Linked DNA regions of Homo sapiens. The protein of the gene in region 3 purifies or fractionates together with the protein of the main gene of each other region. This does not show direct contact. Each region holds a gene or a part of one and is shown on either strand. Other genes may lie near its edges. The genes, in order: HAVCR2, ACP1, ZAP70, CD5 and RASA1.

Region 1 (3,375 bases), on a different chromosome or scaffold from region 3:
GAGATGAATAAGCATGTTGTATTATTAGGGTGATAAATTCTATACCTTAACTTTAGAACTAAAGAAGCTAGAGGTGTCAGGAAGTACACACAGTAGCATGTTACATTTTCACTTCATAACTAGACCTAGAGAAAGAAGGAAGTATAAACTCAGATCTCAAAGCCCCAGGACAGGATTTCTCAGAGAAAAGATCAGACATGTTAGAGTAGGGACTTCCAAGATTCTCACCTTTTCCCAACCCCATTCCATTATTCTTACCTTAAATTCTGTATCTTCTCTTTGCTATGAGAATACCCTAGTAAGGGGGAAACAAAAGCCAATAAAAATGCATTCATAAAATAAATGAGACAAGAAATCAAATAGGTTCACTGGAAGCACGCATAGTTTAGGGAAATCTGGTCTCATCTCAGATTGAGTTAAATGAAACTCTCAACGTGTGCCTTAGATAGTTATATGGACTGTGTTAGAAAATAATAATAAAGATGCATTTTTCTTATTTAACAAATATTATGAGACCTCTACTATGTGTCTGGCAGTTTGCCTGGCACAAGGAACACAGGAACATAAAAGTGAATTGTGAGCCCTAATTTCACGAAGCTCACGCTCTCCTGTGGGAGACCAAAGAAATAAAAGAAAACAGTACCCCAGACCCAAGACCAGCCTGACCAACATGGAGAAACCCCGTCTCTACTAAAAATACAAAATTAGCTGGATGTGGTGGCCCATGCCTGTAATCCCAGCTACTCGGGAGGCTGAGGCAGGAGAATCACATGAACCCGGGAGACGGAGGTTGCGGTGAGCCAAGATTGCGCCATTGCACTCCAGCCTGGGCAACGAGAGCGAAACTCCGTCTCAAAAAAAAAAAAACAACAACAAAAAGGAAATAGTAAATAGGAAAACAAAATAATTTCAAATTATGATGTATTATAAAGGAAACCAACATCATAGTGAAACAGATAATAGAGAGGGTGGTCAGGGAAGGACCCTCAGAGATGAACTTTAAGCTCGTTTCTGAAATGAGTCAGCCAAGTAAAGAGCCAGAAGGAGCATTCCAGGATGAGGGAGCCCCTTGTAAAGATCTTGCTGAGTACCTGAAACTGAAAACGTGGCTGGATTAAGGGAGCGGCCCAAGATAAGGTCTGAAAGGTAGGCTGGGGCTAGGTCCAATAAGACCTTTCCAGCCATAATCAGGAGTCTGGATTTTATTCTAAGACCTGTAGGAAACCTTAGATTTCCTTGAAGGGCAGAGATGTGATCCTTATTTGTTTTGGGTTTCTTTTACCCGCTGAAAACAACTACGTTATCTCATCATTTCTGTGTTGTGGGTCAGGAATCCAGGTGTGGCTTACTGGGTACCTCTGGATCAAGGTCTTTCAAGGTGTCTTCTGGGGATGCAGTTTCAAAAATTTGAAACTTAAAATTTTCCTTTCTTTTCTTTTCTTTTTTTTTTTTTTTTTTTTTTTTTGAGACAGGGTCTTGCTCTGTTGGCCAGGCTGGAATGCAGTAGTAAGATCATATCTGATTGCAACTTTGAACTCCTGGGCTCAAGGGATCTACCCATCTCAGCTTCTGAGTAGCTAGAACTATAGGTGCACACTACCACAGCTGGATAATTTTTTTTAATGTTTTTGGGCTGGATGCAGTGGCTCACGCCTGTAATCCTAGCACTTTGGGAGGCAAGGCAGGTGGATTTCTTGAGCTTGGGAGTTCGAGACCAGCCTGGGCAACATGGTAAAACCTCATCTCTACTAAAAATACAAAAACTAGCCAGGTATGCTGGCACATGCCCGTGGTCCTAGCTACTTGGAGGCTGAGGCAGGAGAGTTGCTTGAACTCGGGAGGTAGAGGTTGCAGTGAGCCATGATCACACCACTGCACTCCAGCCTGGGTGAATCTCAATATGTTGCCCAGGCTAGTCTCAAACTCCTGGCCTCAAGTGACTCTCCTGTCTTGGCCTCCCGAAGTGTTAGGATTATAGGCATGAGCCATTGTGCTCAGACATTGATTTGGGTTTTAATATTGGATTCGAAGGAGGAATAAAGAAATGAGAAGATAAATTAAGTAGAAATAATGGTGTCTTGGAGTAAGGAATGGCCAAAAGAGATGCAGAATAATGAAAACACTTTAGATGTATGTTGGAGGAAGACTGCAGGAATCTTCTGTTGTTGTTTTTCTCTGAGACAGGGTCTCCCTGTGCTGTGTCACCCAGGCTAGAATGCAGCAGCAAGATCATAGTTCATAGCCTCAAACTCCTGGGCTCAAGTGATCTTCCTGCTTCATTCTCCTGAGTAGCTGGGACGATAGGCGTGCACCACCATACCCAGCCCTAAGGAATCTCAACATCTAAGGATCAGGCAGAAGAAGATCTGAAAAGCAATGGATCAAAGAGAAGAATGTCATTTCAGAAGCCAAGAGAAGGAGGACTTTCTAGAATGAGTGATCAATTTAAAAGGTTGACTATAATAAAGATAAAGGTATCAGGCTGGGAACGGTGGCTCACGCCTATAATCCCAGCACTTTGGGAGGCCAAGGCGGGCAGATCATCTGAGGTCAAGAGTTTGAGACCAGCCTGGCCAACATGGTGAAACCCCCGTCTCTACTAAAAATACAAAATTAGCCAGGCATGGCGGCACATGCATGAAATCCCAGCTACTCAGGAGGCTGAGGGGGGAGAATCACTTGAACCCGGGGAGGCAGAGGTTGCAGTGAGCCAAGATTGCACCATTGCACTCCAGCCTAAGCAACAAGAGTGAAACTCTGTCTCAAAAAAAAAAAAAAAGATAAAGGTATCTGTTAATATTTAATTTAGAAAACTGAAGGTCAGTGGTGAGCTTGACCATTTCCGTTGTGCTTTGGAGCAGAAACTAGATGATGGTGGGTCAAGGAGTGTAGATGGGTGAAAAGTAGAGACAACTCCTTTGAAAAATATGGCTGTGAGAACGAGTTGAGAAATGGGACTAGCTGGAGAGGAATGCATGGACTAGAACATATATTCTGCTAATGAAAATAGCATAAACAGAAAAGGAGAGAGATGACTCAGAAGAAAGGGATAAAAAGAAGGATGAAGTCTTGGCCTAGGCAATGGAGATTAAAAAGCCCTTTCATATTTCATCAGTTAGGAGAGGGGCAAAGAAGTTTTGAGCAGCAGTGAGGTATGGATGGTCATCTCAGAGAGTACACTAGAAAGATGGAAGATTGTGGGGCATTATTGAGTGTCAGTTTGTTTTTGTGAGGTCATGACTTAAAAAGCTGTCACCTTGATTTTAATATTTTCTCCAGCAACTTCCAGGGAAAAGATTGGAAATGAAACAGGCCTTTCTTATCTGTACTTCTCAGTAGCCATGTTTTTTTGGAGTGGCATATATGTGTGTGTAC
Region 2 (3,519 bases), about 97 Mb from region 3:
GGACACCCTCCCACCCCTACCCAGTATACCAAAACGTGCATACTCAGGTCCTATAGTTGGCCCCTGAGAATGTGGAGCCCAAGTATAGGAAAAGTCAGCCCTCCATACAGATGGGTTTCTCATTCAGACAACACGGTATTTTCCATCTGTGCTTGATTAAAAAAATTCCTCGAATAAATCCTTCAAAGTTCAAACCCCTGTGGCTGAAGGGTCAACTGTATGTATTTTCAAGTATATCACACATAAGGATGACTACTGTTTCACAAAACAATACACAAACACACAAACATGCATTTAAGCATAAACAGCGATTCAACACCAACATTTACTGAGCGATCACATGCAAAGCCCTGAGCCCAGGGATACAGATCCAGGCATTAGCAGCCCAAGGTCAGGGACACCACTCTCCAGACCACGATGTCGACATCAGGGCCATCCTTACTTTAGACCAGCAAGTGAGAAATCCAGGTTCCCCAGGGCTCCCTCAGGTTTGATAATTCCCTAGAATTACTCCCCAAACTCAGGAAAGCAGAACACTTACCATTACAATTTCATTATAGTAACAGCAACAAAAACAAAAACAAACAAACAAACAAAACAGCCAAAGCAAGTGACCTATAGGGCACATTCTGGGAGGTTCCCTAACAGGTAGCTCCACTGTCCTCTGGGACACCTTACTCTCCTGTCATCAACATGAGACAATATTCAAAGAGCACTGCCAACCCAGGAAGCTCCTCAGAGCCATAGTGCTCTGAGGTTTTATTGGGGTTTTCGGAGGGAGACACAATGGGTTGAATCACTGGCCATTCAGCTGAACTCTATCTCCACTTTATTTATTATATTTATTATAATAAAAGTGGGAAAATGAATGCTGATAAACAATACACTACAGCAGCACAGAAAAAGAACGATGCTACAAAGCAAAAACAAGATATAAGAAAATTTCTTACCAGAAAAAAGAAAGATTAGAGATGATATTAAAAGGATGATCAGGATCTTAATGGACAGAGGAAGGGAAAGGCATTTAACTCAGAGGGATTGTGGCACTAAGCAGGTGAGGCTGCGATGCTTCAGGTACAGAGAGCCAGTGTCTGGAAACTGACGGGCTGGTATACAGGAGCCCTAAAACACTGGGCCAACATTTGAACTTTGCGTAGCCACTATGAGGAGAAATAGAAAGTCCTATGGAAAAGGGTAATATGACTTATTCAACAAACATATTTTGTATGCCAACTCTATGTGCCAAGCACTGTGCCCTAACCTGAAGACAGAAAGTTGTTTAAAACACAGACCCTTCCTACAAGTTACCAAAATTACCGGCACAGCTAAGGAAACACTAGAAGAGCACATGACTGAATTGGAGAGACCTTGTAAGAGGCTCGTATGAAGGAGCAAATACAAGACAGTGTCAGAGTGGAAAGGTGTGGCAGCTTTCCTCACCCATCATAAAGGTCATGGAAGATACTCCTGTAACAAAAGACAGGTTAACAAGAGCCTTCAGAAATGAAGACCCAAAGACCCAGGGAAACGGTTTTGATGCTTAGATGACCAATGCACAGCTGTGTAGAAATGGCACTGGACAAAAGGAAATGATCCAATGGTAGCAGACTGAGGGAAACCCAGCAGGGCCACAGCATTTCCTCCCCCAGGAATGAGGCAGGGCCCCTCTGAAATGCTGTCTTCAAGAGAAGGCAAAAGGGAGAGAGTGATCTTTCTAGGTTTTATGGCTTGCTTTGCAGGAGAGGAGTTCTAGTTTCTATGATCTGCGCTGGGGAAGATAAATGATGGTTTCTACGACCTTGCTTCTGGGGCTGCTCTGAGGCCTTCCAGTCTCCTTAATGCCAAAGCACCACACTGAGTCCAGACATTAGGAGCTGAATTTAGGAAACAGATACGAAAAAGAGGAACTGTGAGAATAGGCAGCACTAACTAAGAGTTTACTCTTTATCACTATTAGGGTCTTCTGTTTATGATAAACAAATACAATGAGGATCTTCTAGTGTTGTAAAACACAGCTAATTCCCTAGTTCAGAAAACCAACTCACTGCCTTACTACAGCCTTCAGTTTCTACATTGTAAGACCTAAGCATATTACGTACTTTTTTCCCACAGAGACTGTAGTTTCCACAGCAGTAAAAAATCTTACCTACAAACCATAAAGGGAAAGACAACAAATTAGCCTTGAATACCCTCTATATGCTAATTTGTGTTGTGAAGTTTTTCCTTTCGACATTCTAAATTTTGTTTAGTTTTCTAAACAGGTATTGTCATCAGCACTATTTTAATTATTGAAAGGCTTCCCATGGGTGTGTAACTCTTTTACTTGTCACCATATACCCTGGGAATATTTTTAACAGCAAACATTGTATTCCAAATTAAGACAATTATTATTTTGGATCTGTAGAACAACAGATGCCTAGTATCTCAGCATCTAAAAATATAATAAAGACTAGCCCCACACGTTTACAAATAATTATCTTTAACTGTAAAATAACAGCTTACTTTCCCCACAACAATATGAAAACTTGCATTATTAACTGTCCTAAAGGCTAGCAGTAGCTTGCCCTGTTGATTTCGAAAGTTGATGCCACCAAATTTTGTTATGAAAAAATGGAGCACCCCGGTCATCAGTGAAACACTGCATGTACTTCAGGTTTCGCCTATCAAACAAGTTCTAAAAACAGAACATTCCATCTTCAAATGCCTTTAAAAAATGTTTCAATCTGTAAAGTCTCAAGTTTGTCTTTTCCAAATTAGGCAGACTATTTTATACCCTTCTTCAGCATCTTCAATTCAAGGATGGAGACTCATAAAAGGCAGATAGGCTCTGGGAGGGTGGGGCTGTGTCTGCTATACCTGGTAAGAGACCCAGCACCCAGTATGGGTGTAGCCCAGAAGTAAAGTGACTCCACCAGCATGTGCTATCTCCACCAACCATGCTGGCTGGGTCATGGCTCCTGCATCATCTTCACTAATAAGTCTCTATTGCAAAAACATAAAGCACCCTTCATAATTGTGCTGTAGTAAGGAGCTCAATTATTTTCCATCATTAGCTTCACCAATGAAAAACCTCTGATGCTTTTCTACACTTCAATCTCAATAGGGTCCAAACAAATGCTTTGAATGAACAAAGTTTTTTACATTTCAAAAGCATACAACTCTTACTGTCCTCTATATGGCTACCAAGTAAAATGCCATTTACCGCTCAAATTCCCTCAGAATGCAACCAGTAAAGGCATGCTCCACCTCCAGTTTCATCTCAAAACAACAGCTGAAACTCTTCTTTTTTAAACTTAAATTTGATCACTTCCCACCTCTGCTCAAAACCCTCCAATGTTTATTCAGAGTAAGCCCAAGTCTTCACATGGCCTCCCAAGATCTGGACCTAAAACAGGGGTCTGAAAATCGGCTCATGGTCCACTGCCTTTATGTACAGCCCACAGCGGTAAGAATAATTTTTACATTGTTGAGTAGTTGGAAAAAATCTAAAAGTAGAGTACCTTGTGACATGTGAAAATT
Region 3 (3,519 bases):
GCTTGTGTCATGTTTGCTAATGTCCTGTTAGCAAGGCACATGGTCAAGCCCTGATTCAGAAGACAGAGGAGGAGGCCCCACCTATTGATGGGAAGAGCTCCCTAATATTGTGGCTGTTTTCCCCCAGTATTCCACATGGAAGTTTAAATAAACAAATAAGGAGGAAATTATTAGTTCTAGAAGAAAGAATGAAAGAGACAGACAGACTTGGTGGCTCACGCCTGTAATCCCAGCACTTTGGGAGGCCGAGGCAGGTGGATCACGAGGTCAGAAGATTGAGACCATCCTATCTAACACAGTGAAACCCCATCTCTACTAAAAATACAAAAAATTAGCTGGGCGTGGTGGTGTGCACCTGCAGTCCCAGCTACTTGGGAGGCTGAGGCAGGAGAATGGCATGGACCCAGGAGGCAGAGCTTGCAGTGAGCCGAGATCACGCCACTGCACTCCAGCCCGGGCTGTGGAGCGAGACTCGGTCTCAAAAAAAAAAAAAAAAAAAAAGAGACAGAGGAGGGGAGATGGGAGGTTTGCTGTTTGCTGGTGAGTGGCTTGGCATGGAGTCTCTGTTGTCAGTTTAAAACTTCAGGTTGTGACCCTTAGGAGGTGTTTTCACTTCTCACAGTCCCTGGAGACCATCACCTCCAGGCCAGCCTGCCACCTGCCTCTGACTTCCACAGCTCTGAGACCCCCAGGGCCAATAGCCCTCCCTCCTCACTGGAAAGCTGCACTTAACAGGAGCTTGTGCCAGTGACTCAAAATAGAAATGTTTTGTGGGAGATGTTGACTGGTGTCACTGCGGGGTTTCACGTGACGGCGCTGCATCTGCTGTCCCAGCCTACTGTCTCTGTGGGATGTTTGTTTCCTAATTTGTGGTGGGTTCTCTTCCTTGCCCTTTTGTGTGCCCTCATTGCCCCCGCCCTGATTTCCCATCTCTCCATGTTATCTCCAGACTGTTGTGGGCTAGCCTGGGAACTGCCCCACCCTTCACTGCACTGTACTTCGGGGAACGTGCTGTCCAGGAATGGAGAGGATGGTCACAGCTGCACCTCTCTCCCTCACTCAGGGGACATTTCCTAAGGAAGGGCCTTATTGCAAGGTGGGCCCATGGCTGCCTTGCTCACTGCCATATCCCTGCGCTGAGAACAGTGCCTGGCCTGTCAGTAAAGACTTGTCCAGTGAATGAACATCCACAGGCAGGGCCAGGCCTGGTCTGAGAATTTGCACCTTGGAGGGTGCAGCTCGCAGGCCATCACAAGGGCTCTTCTGTAGTGCAGTGCAATCCCTGAGATCAGGAGTCGGCTGCTTCCGGCCTCCACAGCTTCCACGGGGCCAGCTGCCCTCCCTCCTCACTGTAAAGCTACACTTGACCCTGCAATAGAGGCTTGTGCCAGTGACCCCAGACAAAACTGTTGTGTGGGGGATGCTGACTGGTGTCACTGTGGGGCTTCATGCGAGGGTGCCGGTGTCTGACACTAAGTTGGTCTGTGTTGAGGGGGGATGTGTGTACTCAGGGCTGGAGCGGATGGGGGGACAGTTTCTTACCCCACAAATGCACCACCTTTGAGGGGCTCAATTCCCATCATAGACATGGAAGATTTATATATTTATATTGACAAAATTCCAGCAGAAGGCAATCGAGGGTCTCATTCTAGGAAAGGTCCATCTATTATGGAACTGGTCAGTCTCGTGATGAGAAAGTGACTTGTTTTGATTTGCACAGGGGTGCCCTGTAAGCTTGTCATGGAGCTGCGCCTACCTGTGTGGGTCTGTGTGGAAAAGGCTTTCTCTCCCCAGGAGAATGGTGCTAGGTCTACCTGTTGAAGGCTCTGGGTCTGTTGTAGAAGGCCAAGTGCCCCCCATGGTTGGCTGACTGTATGGCCGAGTGTACCCCCAATGAGTGCCTGTGGATGACTATCTCTCTGTGGATGGCAAGTGTCTGGCCGTGGATGGCCAACTGTTCAGCCATGGGGGACCAGGTGTTCCCCAGTGGATGGGTGTCCCCTCCTCCGTGGCTGGGTGTCCACCGTGGGGGGTCAGGTATTCCCCGTGAATGGCCATCTGTTGGCTCTTGGAGAACAGTGCATTTTCCTGGGAACACAGCCATGGCCCCTCCACCGCCCTCTGCCACTTGGCCCATCATCAGCAGATCTGGAGGTGATGGGGGCCTGGCCTGGCTTCCCCAGTCCCTGCAGCTTCTCTGCAAGGCTCTGAGGTGTGGAGCCCATAGGGTGTGTTGCGGGGGAACCGGGGCACAGCAGGAGGCCCCCAGGTGGCTCTAGGGGTTACATCCCCTCCCTTCCCCTGCCAGGCTGAGGCCGCGGAAGGAGCAGGGCACATACGCCCTGTCCCTCATCTATGGGAAGACGGTGTACCACTACCTCATCAGCCAAGACAAGGCGGGCAAGTACTGCATTCCCGAGGGCACCAAGTTTGACACGCTCTGGCAGGTAGGCTGCCCGTGCAACTTGTTCTGGGAGATGCCGTGCTCAGATGGGGTGCCGGGCTCTGGGGAGGAGAGGAGCCTCTCTGCTAGCTGCCTGCTCCCTGCAGCTGGTGGAGTATCTGAAGCTGAAGGCGGACGGGCTCATCTACTGCCTGAAGGAGGCCTGCCCCAACAGCAGTGCCAGCAACGCCTCAGGTGACGGCAGCAGGCGGGCGGGCGGTGGGCGGGGGCGGCAGGAGACCTGGCCCCCAGCCCTCACTGTCCCTTCTGCTCCCCCAGGGGCTGCTGCTCCCACACTCCCAGCCCACCCATCCACGTTGACTCATGTGAGTTGGGGGCACCTGGAGTGTGGCCTTGGGGATGGAGCTGGGGAGTGGCTGTGGGGGAGGCTGGGATGGAGGCTGGGGTGCCTGTGGAGCGGAAGAAGCTCTCTCTCCACTGTCTCTGGGAGTCCTCAGTGGATATAGGTCTCATGAGAGGGGCTGGACGTCCCCAGCTCAGGCCTTGCTGACCCTGTGGCCTTTAGCCTCAGAGACGAATCGACACCCTCAACTCAGATGGATACACCCCTGAGCCAGGTGAGCGGGCAGAGGTGGGGACGCGGGTTGGGGCTCATGCTGAGCCGAGATCAGGGTCGCTGTCAGGGCTGTGGGGTTTCACGGGGGGCGCTGTGGGCCGGGCCAGGCTGTGGCAGTTGGCTTGGTTAACACCTGTGCACACATGTGCCCACACCCATCACACCTGCCTGTGCACATGTACGTCCCAGTGTGTACTGACGTGCAGGGAGCACACTTGGCCTTGCCTGAGGCTCCCCAGACACACGTTTGTTGAGTACCTACTATGTGTCAGTCACGTTCCGAGGTCACTGTGTGTATGAGCCACCGAACCCTCCTGACATGCCTTATGAAGTGGCTATGGTGATTAACCTCACTTTACAGATGAGAGAGGGAGGGGTCTGTCTATGGGGATGTGAGGCAGTGGTAGAGGCGGGATGTGAACCCACGATGGGCCCCAGAGCTCACATTCCTAAAATGGTCTGCTGCGGGTGCTCCTGTTTCTCATGGGTGGGCCCAGAC
Region 4 (3,519 bases), on a different chromosome or scaffold from region 3:
CCAATGGAAGATCCAGAACTCAAGCTGTACCTCCCTGGAGCATTGCTTCAGGAAAATCAAGCCCCAGAAAAGTGGCCGAGTTCTTGCCCTCCTTTGCTCAGGTAAGTGAGACCTGGCCAAGCCCCATGACACCTTCTGCTGCCCTAGGTGGGGTCACAGAGCATCCCAGAAGGTCAGGGAACATGTGTGCAGCACAGGGCACTATGGAGAATACAAGGGAAGTGGAGGCCTGGTCTTGGCCTCTAAGAGGTAACAAGGGTTGGGGTGGGGAGGATGCATCCACACTCAATGCCTTGGTAATCTCTGCAAAGCTACACACCCCAAGCCCAAAGGAACCGCTGGCTCAGCTGCCACATGGGGAAGGGGAGTCGGCAGGACTTCCAGGAGGAGGCAAGGTCTCTTCGTGGGTCTGGGGGAGAAAAAAAAATGTCTAGGTAGGAATTATGGCTTGTGCCAAAGATGGGGCACTTGGAGGGGTGGGCCTTGCAGGAAGGGCATTTGTAAATCCCAAGAGTTGGCATTGCAGCAATGGTGAGAGGTGGGAGGTCCCTGAGGCCCGGGAGTCAGAGGACAGCAGGCAAAGAGAGAAACAGAGACAGCCCCCAAGAGGGCTCTGCAGAGGGTCCTGCGCCGTGTGCTGACAAGGTAAAGAGAATGATGCCGCTGTGTGGTTGAGGGGAGGAGGCAGGTGAGACTGAGTCTGTGAGACCCCGGTGGGCCAAACCAGGATCAATGAAGAAAACTAAAGGGAAGAAACCACAGCTGAAACGAAGGGAGAAACGGAGAAACTTCGCAGTACGCCTCCCTCCGGAAGTAGTGGGTTCCCATGGCCGGAAGTGTTCTCAGTGAAGTCCACACTGTACTTACCGAGAGCTTACTTCATGCAGGGACCATTCCTGGACATTCTAAATTTTTCACATGGCCTTAGGAGGTGGGTGTTATTATTATCATCCCTTTTTACAGTGAGGAGGCTGAGGTTTAGAGAGGCTAAACCTCTCGCCCAGTACTATGGAGCACTTGCTGGGATTTCTGTTCAAGCAGGGTCACTCTAGAGCCTGTTATCTGAGCCTTGGTGACTCAGTGTGGTCCTGGAACAGCAGCAGCTGGTTAGAAATGCAGGTGCTCAGGCCCCAGCCTGGACCTTCCGAATCAGAATCCACTTTTCAGCAAGGTCCTCAGTGATTTATGTGCACAAATCTAGGAATCACTGCTCGGGGCCACCTGGCTGTCCTGCAAGCACGCTGGGTACCTGGTGTAAATTAGTAAAATGCTGCCCCTCCCCCAGCAGAAGCAGCTCCCAAGGGGCTCTTGGCCTGATGAGGAGAGCAGGGGCTGGCTCGCAGTCCCACCGGCCCCTCAGCTACTATCCTTCCTGCAGGCTACAACCTGTAAAACCATACCCAGGGTTCTTGCCTTTGAAGCTTCTTCTAAATAGATTTACTAGGGCTTTGAAGGTGGATGTTGCTATGGGAACTGGGCAAAGCTGGTGAGATCACAACTCTCTCTAAACTGAGCATGTGTGGGCCTCAGCTACAGACTCCCAGGCCCCACCCTGGCAGGCAGAAATAAATGTGTGCCTCTGTTGAGCCAGGCCCCACTTGCTGAAAGCCTGGCCCTCAGCGTTCAGTGCCTGGGCAGCACGATCTGTCCCAACTGTGAACTGCCAGGACTCAGGGCAGTAGGTCTTTCCAACCCCCAGGCCTCAGTTTCCCTCTTCTGAAAAGTCCTCCTTCTTCCCAAAGTGCAGCGGGATAATGACAAGATGTTTCCAAGTGAGAAGTGGACCTAGGTGGAGCCTATTTCCCACGCTCTTCTCTTATCTCCACCTGGCATGGAGCCGACTCCCTGCTGGTGGCTGCCAACAGCCTCCCTGCAGAAAGCGCCTATGCTGCTGTGTCTCAGGATGGTGCTGGCAGCTGCCCAGAGGCACCAGAGACAGTGCTGGGTCAGGGGAAGAGCCACAGAGGGTGCCAGAAGGAGGGAAGGGCAGAAAAGAAGGCTGCCTCTCCTGGTGGTCCCACACAGTGCCTTCCCCTAGCCAGGGCCCCGATTTGCCAGTGGCATGGGGCCCCAGGAAGCAGCACACAGGCTCAGGTTCACACTTGCACCCTCCTTTCCCATTGCTTCCCCTCTCAGGTTTCCAGCCCAAGGTGCAGAGCCGTCTGGTGGGGGGCAGCAGCATCTGTGAAGGCACCGTGGAGGTGCGCCAGGGGGCTCAGTGGGCAGCCCTGTGTGACAGCTCTTCAGCCAGGAGCTCGCTGCGGTGGGAGGAGGTGTGCCGGGAGCAGCAGTGTGGCAGCGTCAACTCCTATCGAGTGCTGGACGCTGGTGACCCAACATCCCGGGGGCTCTTCTGTCCCCATCAGAAGCTGTCCCAGTGCCACGAACTTTGGGAGAGAAATTCCTACTGCAAGAAGGTGTTTGTCACATGTGAGTTGGCCACAGCCCACAGTGGGTGGAAGCAGTTACTACTTTACCTCTAGGACCCGGTCAGGGTGCATGTCTCTAAAGGGAAGCCCTGGGGAGCTAGACAGAGAGTCCCAGAGACCCAGAAAGGATGGAGACAGGGAAATTGGAAGGCTAGGGAGCAAGAGTACTCAGACAGCAATGGGCATGAACAATAATAGGAGACAGGGCAAGCAACAGGCAGATCACTGTCAGGCAGCTGATGAGTCATAGAACTTCTCCTTCTACCTTCTACTTTTGCAAGGTGGAAGCCAGAAAATCAAATGGTAGATAGCACATATTTGCTACATGAATGGTAACTAAACGGGAAGTAAAAGAGAGAAATGGATGGATGGATGGATGGATGGATTGGTGGGTGGGTGGGTGGGTGGGTGGATGGATGGATGGATGGATGGATGGATGGATGGATGGATCGGTGGGTGGGTGGATGGATGATGGATGGATGGATGGATGGATGGATGGATGGATGGATGGATGGATCAGTGGGTGGGTGGATGGATGGATGGTTGGATGGATGGATGGATGAGTGGACTGATGGATGGGTGAGTGGATGGATGGATGGATGGATGGACAGAAGGGCGGATGGACAGATGGATGGATGGATCAAGAATAGAGGCCCCGCTGGCTATTGGTATGCAATCATATATTGGTTTCTGATGGTATATGATGGCAAGGTGATCACTAATAACTGGCAAATGGTAGAAAATTAAATAGCTTATAACAAGTGTGGCAAATGATAGCTAGATGATCAACTGTTAGATGACAAATGGTGGGTGGGTGAGTGGGTAGCAGGGAATCCTAGAGATAGATGGAGGGATAGCCAAATAGATCATTGCCTTCCGTGCATGCTGGTGAATTTCTCAGATGAGCAAGGATGACGGCGGAAGCCAGGCAGCCAGCAGCTTCCCTCCCACAGTTTTTCTCCCCCCAGGACTGGGACTGACCTAACTCTTCCTCCTTCCCCAGGCCAGGATCCAAACCCCGCAGGCCTGGCCGCAGGCACGGTGGCAAGCATCATCCTGGCCCTGGTGCTCCTGGTGGTGCTGCTGGTCG
Region 5 (3,519 bases), on a different chromosome or scaffold from region 3:
ACCTTTCTCAGAACTTTTCCTGTAACCCTTCTGATCTAGTGTCAGCAGAGTACATTTATCTATGGAAGTCGGAATTCCGTAGCCTATCTCTAAAGTCCAGAGACTCCCTACCTACCTGCTGCACTTCTGTGTCATCCTTATGTTAGGCCAACTATGGCATTACCCCACATTTCCAACATTAAATCACTAATTTCTTCCCTTCAAGTTATTAGTATGAATCGACACCTTCGTGCAGGATTAACATTTGCTAGGTCCCAGTGTCCATTGTCAAAAACAATTCCTTAAACTGATTTTTATATCAGATCTAATATATATTATTTCTTTGTAGTTGCTTTACCATTAAAATGAGAGAATATGTGTGTGAGATTCCACTTACTGTCTTAATAGTGTATTATGAATTTATACTGAAACTTTAATAATCCTAAAAAGATTTTTTTGTTTTAGTTGAGGTTATCTCATAATTCTCCCCTCGCAAAAAAACCTTCAAGAACAAACCAAGATGTAATGAAGTGCTACATAGGTTATATAATGAGTCACTAACAAAACCTTCAATTTATCTTATGCACGCTTTCTGTAAGTAGTATATAGATTATTAGTACAGTAGAGGAAATGACAAAGTATTTTCATGAATTTCTGGTGCAACTTGATGGTTTTTAATCCCAAAATAAAGTACATCTTTTTTAAGAAGTCCATTTTGCAGAACATTTTTATAAATGTATTACAGACAGGTGTAACTGCTATGAGGAATAATTTTAGAAATTTAATATATTTTCCTTAAAATGTAATTGGCTACAAATTATTACCTATTAAAATATGTTCTTTGCAAAAATACTTATTAAAACATTAAATTCTTACCTCACAAGACTGCTTGCTTTCCATTATCTTTAAAATAGAGTCTTTCAAAGCATGATGAACAAACTGTGTAGCAGTGGCTTTCATATACTGCTCCATCAAGGTGCTTGCAAGTGTTGTGGCTCGAAATAGGGTAGTGGCTTCATCTACACAAATATTTACATTAGAAGATTATTTGTAAAGGACTGACCTAATGTGACCAAATTGGAAATTAAGTGAATTCATTTTACCTCAACAGGAATAGCCACTTAAATGTGCTTTTTGCGTGCAGCGTTGAAAGTACTAATTACAATGACATCCTATACTTCTACAGACTTAACTCTGTAAGACTTTCATATGTATTACCTCATTAGATCATGAACAGAAGGGATTAACACTGCCATGTTCATATGGAAAAATGAAGACTCAGAATTGTTATATGACTTAAGATCAATTAGACAGCTAATGATAAAATTAGGACCATAAATCAGCTTTGCTGCCCATTGACCCCATGCTTTGAAATTTTAGGGTTTATTTACAATTAAGGATATAACACAAAATCCCAGTATAGATTAATTTATTAGCTTAAAATATGTCTACTGAGTTTCAGTAAAATTTTAATGAAATACAAATGCTGTCAGAAAAGATAAACTCAAGTGTAAAATAAGGACCACCATTTTATCTATTCCTTGACAAATCTATATTTTGTGATGAGGAGGAAAATAGTTCTAAACTTTACTATTTATTTGGGGAACCTAGAAGCAAGAACTGTTAATGAATCAAAGTGCTTGGTGGTGTGTGTGGGCCAGGGGGAGGGTGGATTATTTTGTAAGCCATTAAAAGCACTGTGTCCAGCAGCTTGGGAACTACCTATCTATAAAAGTTAGAAATAAAATGCAGCTGACACCCAGCTTCTGTGTAATGAAGAAGTAAAAATTAAACAAGACCTGTAACCCCGGCACTTTGGGAGGCTTGAGGCAGGCGGATCACCTGAAGTCAGGAGTTCAAGACCAGCCTGGCCAACATGGTGAAAACCCGTCTCTACTAAAAAAATAAAATAAAAAATTAGCTGGGTGTGGTGGCATATGCCTGTAGTCCCAGCTACTTAGGAGGCTGAGGCAGGAGAATCGCTTGAACCTGAGAGGTAGAGGTTGCAGTGAGCCGAGACTGCGCCACTGCACTGCAGCCTGGGCGACTGAGATGCCATCTCAAAAGAAAATAAAAAACAAGAGAATACAGATAAATATGCCAAACAGTCAAGCCATTGATGTAGACACAGATACCACCTTCTTGTGGCTTCTAGTACTTATCTGCCAAAACCTACATTAGAAATATCAGCTTCCCATAGTAACCAACATAATCAGAACTGACATCCAACTGCAATTTTTAAGGAGGGAAAACAGAATAACTTATTTTGCAATATAATTTAACAATTTAGTATATTCAGAGATAGAGTCCATATATCCTTGATATAAAATCTAAACCCAGTTTCTTGTATCACACTAACATGGCCATACCATACCTTCCATGCTTATTTCTCTGTCATTTAGTGTGCATAACAACAACGATTCAAGCTTTTCGTGAAGAAAAATCCTCAGTAGGATGCTGGCCAGTAGTGTTCGGTCTTGTCCACATACATGTGATAAAGCATAGACTACATGAAGTTCCTTTTGCAGTATAAGCTAAAATGACATTTTAAAAGATTGTTTAAAGTACGTAGCATTATAAGCATGCTCCATGAGACTAACAAGAAATATGTTCTTTCACAAGTTCTTATATTTAAAATGATGTCCCATTGAATAAATTTATTTAAAATAGAATGAATTCGTAGTCTACTTATTTCTACCAAAATTACAGTATAAAACAAGGTTTAAAATCTCTGGCATCATTGTGCTACTAAGCTATGAATTACTATGTTTACCTTAATGGATCTTTTATTAAATGTTAAATGTTTCTGTTAATTCCAACAAAAACAAGACTGATAAATAATTTAATACCTCTTTAAATTCACTGTACTCTTCTTCTGGCATGATTTTTTCCATAGAGTATCGTGCTCGAACACGCAGGGACCCTGGTTCAATACCTTTTAATGGTATATGGGAGCTGAGCAGAAACCATTCATCTGTGGCATGCCCTTTCTGTAATCGGCTCAACTGGCAGCGCATAAATACTTGGGAAGAAAAACAAGCAATTATTGTTTAAAAAGAGAACACGATAATTAGTCATGCAAGTAAATTTTCCTGGTGTTCAGTCTTCCCTATGGTGTTAAATGCTTTTCATTAAAGGAGTTTTCAGTAACATCACAAATTCAATATTTAGTTGTTTATTTACTGAGTGTCTACGGTGCACTAAACTCTGATAGGTAGAGAGTACAGAGATGATTGAGATGTGTTCTTTGAGTTGCATAGAGGTCAGTTTAGTCAAGAAGGCAAGAAATCAATTATGTTTCAGCACTGGTAAGTGCTGTTAACAGTGGTGAATGCTATTCGAGTACAGAGAAATAATATCTAATTCAGCCTGTGGAGGTGAAAACTCCACTTTAAACAGGTAACCCTTGAGCGGACGAGATCTAGAGGTGTAGCTAAGAAGAAAAGTAGTGAAAAAAGAAAAAAGAGCACTTCAAATATAAGGTATGGCCTTCGTTCTGTGTCATTACTATGGGGTTTGGATTTTATCGTAAAAGTAATG

What was found.
Region 1: the proteins of ZAP70 (region 3) and HAVCR2 purify together in Homo sapiens (co-immunoprecipitation; one study listed by IntAct). This does not show direct contact.
Region 2: the proteins of ZAP70 (region 3) and ACP1 purify together in Homo sapiens (affinity purification with western blotting, with the first as the bait; one study listed by BioGRID). This does not show direct contact.
Region 4: the proteins of ZAP70 (region 3) and CD5 purify together in Homo sapiens (affinity purification with western blotting, with the first as the bait; one study listed by BioGRID). This does not show direct contact.
Region 5: the proteins of ZAP70 (region 3) and RASA1 purify together in Homo sapiens (affinity purification with western blotting, with the first as the bait; one study listed by BioGRID). This does not show direct contact.

Annotation. Positions count from the first base shown.
Region 1 is NC_000005.10:157,088,683-157,092,057, forward strand, and holds part of HAVCR2 (hepatitis A virus cellular receptor 2 precursor), read right to left. Parts: intron 296-3,375; coding exon 259-295; intron 1-258. UniProt on the Homo sapiens protein: Cell surface receptor implicated in modulating innate and adaptive immune responses. Generally accepted to have an inhibiting function.
Region 2 is NC_000002.12:267,928-271,446, reverse strand, and holds part of ACP1 (low molecular weight phosphotyrosine protein phosphatase), read right to left. Parts: intron 1-3,519. UniProt on the Homo sapiens protein: Acts on tyrosine phosphorylated proteins, low-MW aryl phosphates and natural and synthetic acyl phosphates with differences in substrate specificity between isoform 1 and isoform 2.
Region 3 is NC_000002.12:97,730,575-97,734,093, forward strand, and holds part of ZAP70 (tyrosine-protein kinase ZAP-70), read left to right. Parts: intron 1-2,308; coding exon 2,309-2,447; intron 2,448-2,550; coding exon 2,551-2,638; intron 2,639-2,722; coding exon 2,723-2,769; exon of another isoform or gene 2,770-2,969; coding exon 2,970-3,021; exon of another isoform or gene 3,022-3,519. UniProt on the Homo sapiens protein: Tyrosine kinase that plays an essential role in regulation of the adaptive immune response. Regulates motility, adhesion and cytokine expression of mature T-cells, as well as thymocyte development.
Region 4 is NC_000011.10:61,119,475-61,122,993, forward strand, and holds part of CD5 (T-cell surface glycoprotein CD5 isoform 1 precursor), read left to right. Parts: coding exon 1-101; intron 102-2,136; coding exon 2,137-2,430; intron 2,431-3,432; coding exon 3,433-3,519. UniProt on the Homo sapiens protein: Lymphoid-specific receptor expressed by all T-cells and in a subset of B-cells known as B1a cells. Plays a role in the regulation of TCR and BCR signaling, thymocyte selection, T-cell effector differentiation and immune tolerance.
Region 5 is NC_000005.10:87,375,875-87,379,393, reverse strand, and holds part of RASA1 (ras GTPase-activating protein 1), read right to left. Parts: intron 3,002-3,519; coding exon 2,829-3,001; intron 2,514-2,828; coding exon 2,354-2,513; intron 999-2,353; coding exon 856-998; intron 1-855. UniProt on the Homo sapiens protein: Inhibitory regulator of the Ras-cyclic AMP pathway. Stimulates the GTPase of normal but not oncogenic Ras p21; this stimulation may be further increased in the presence of NCK1.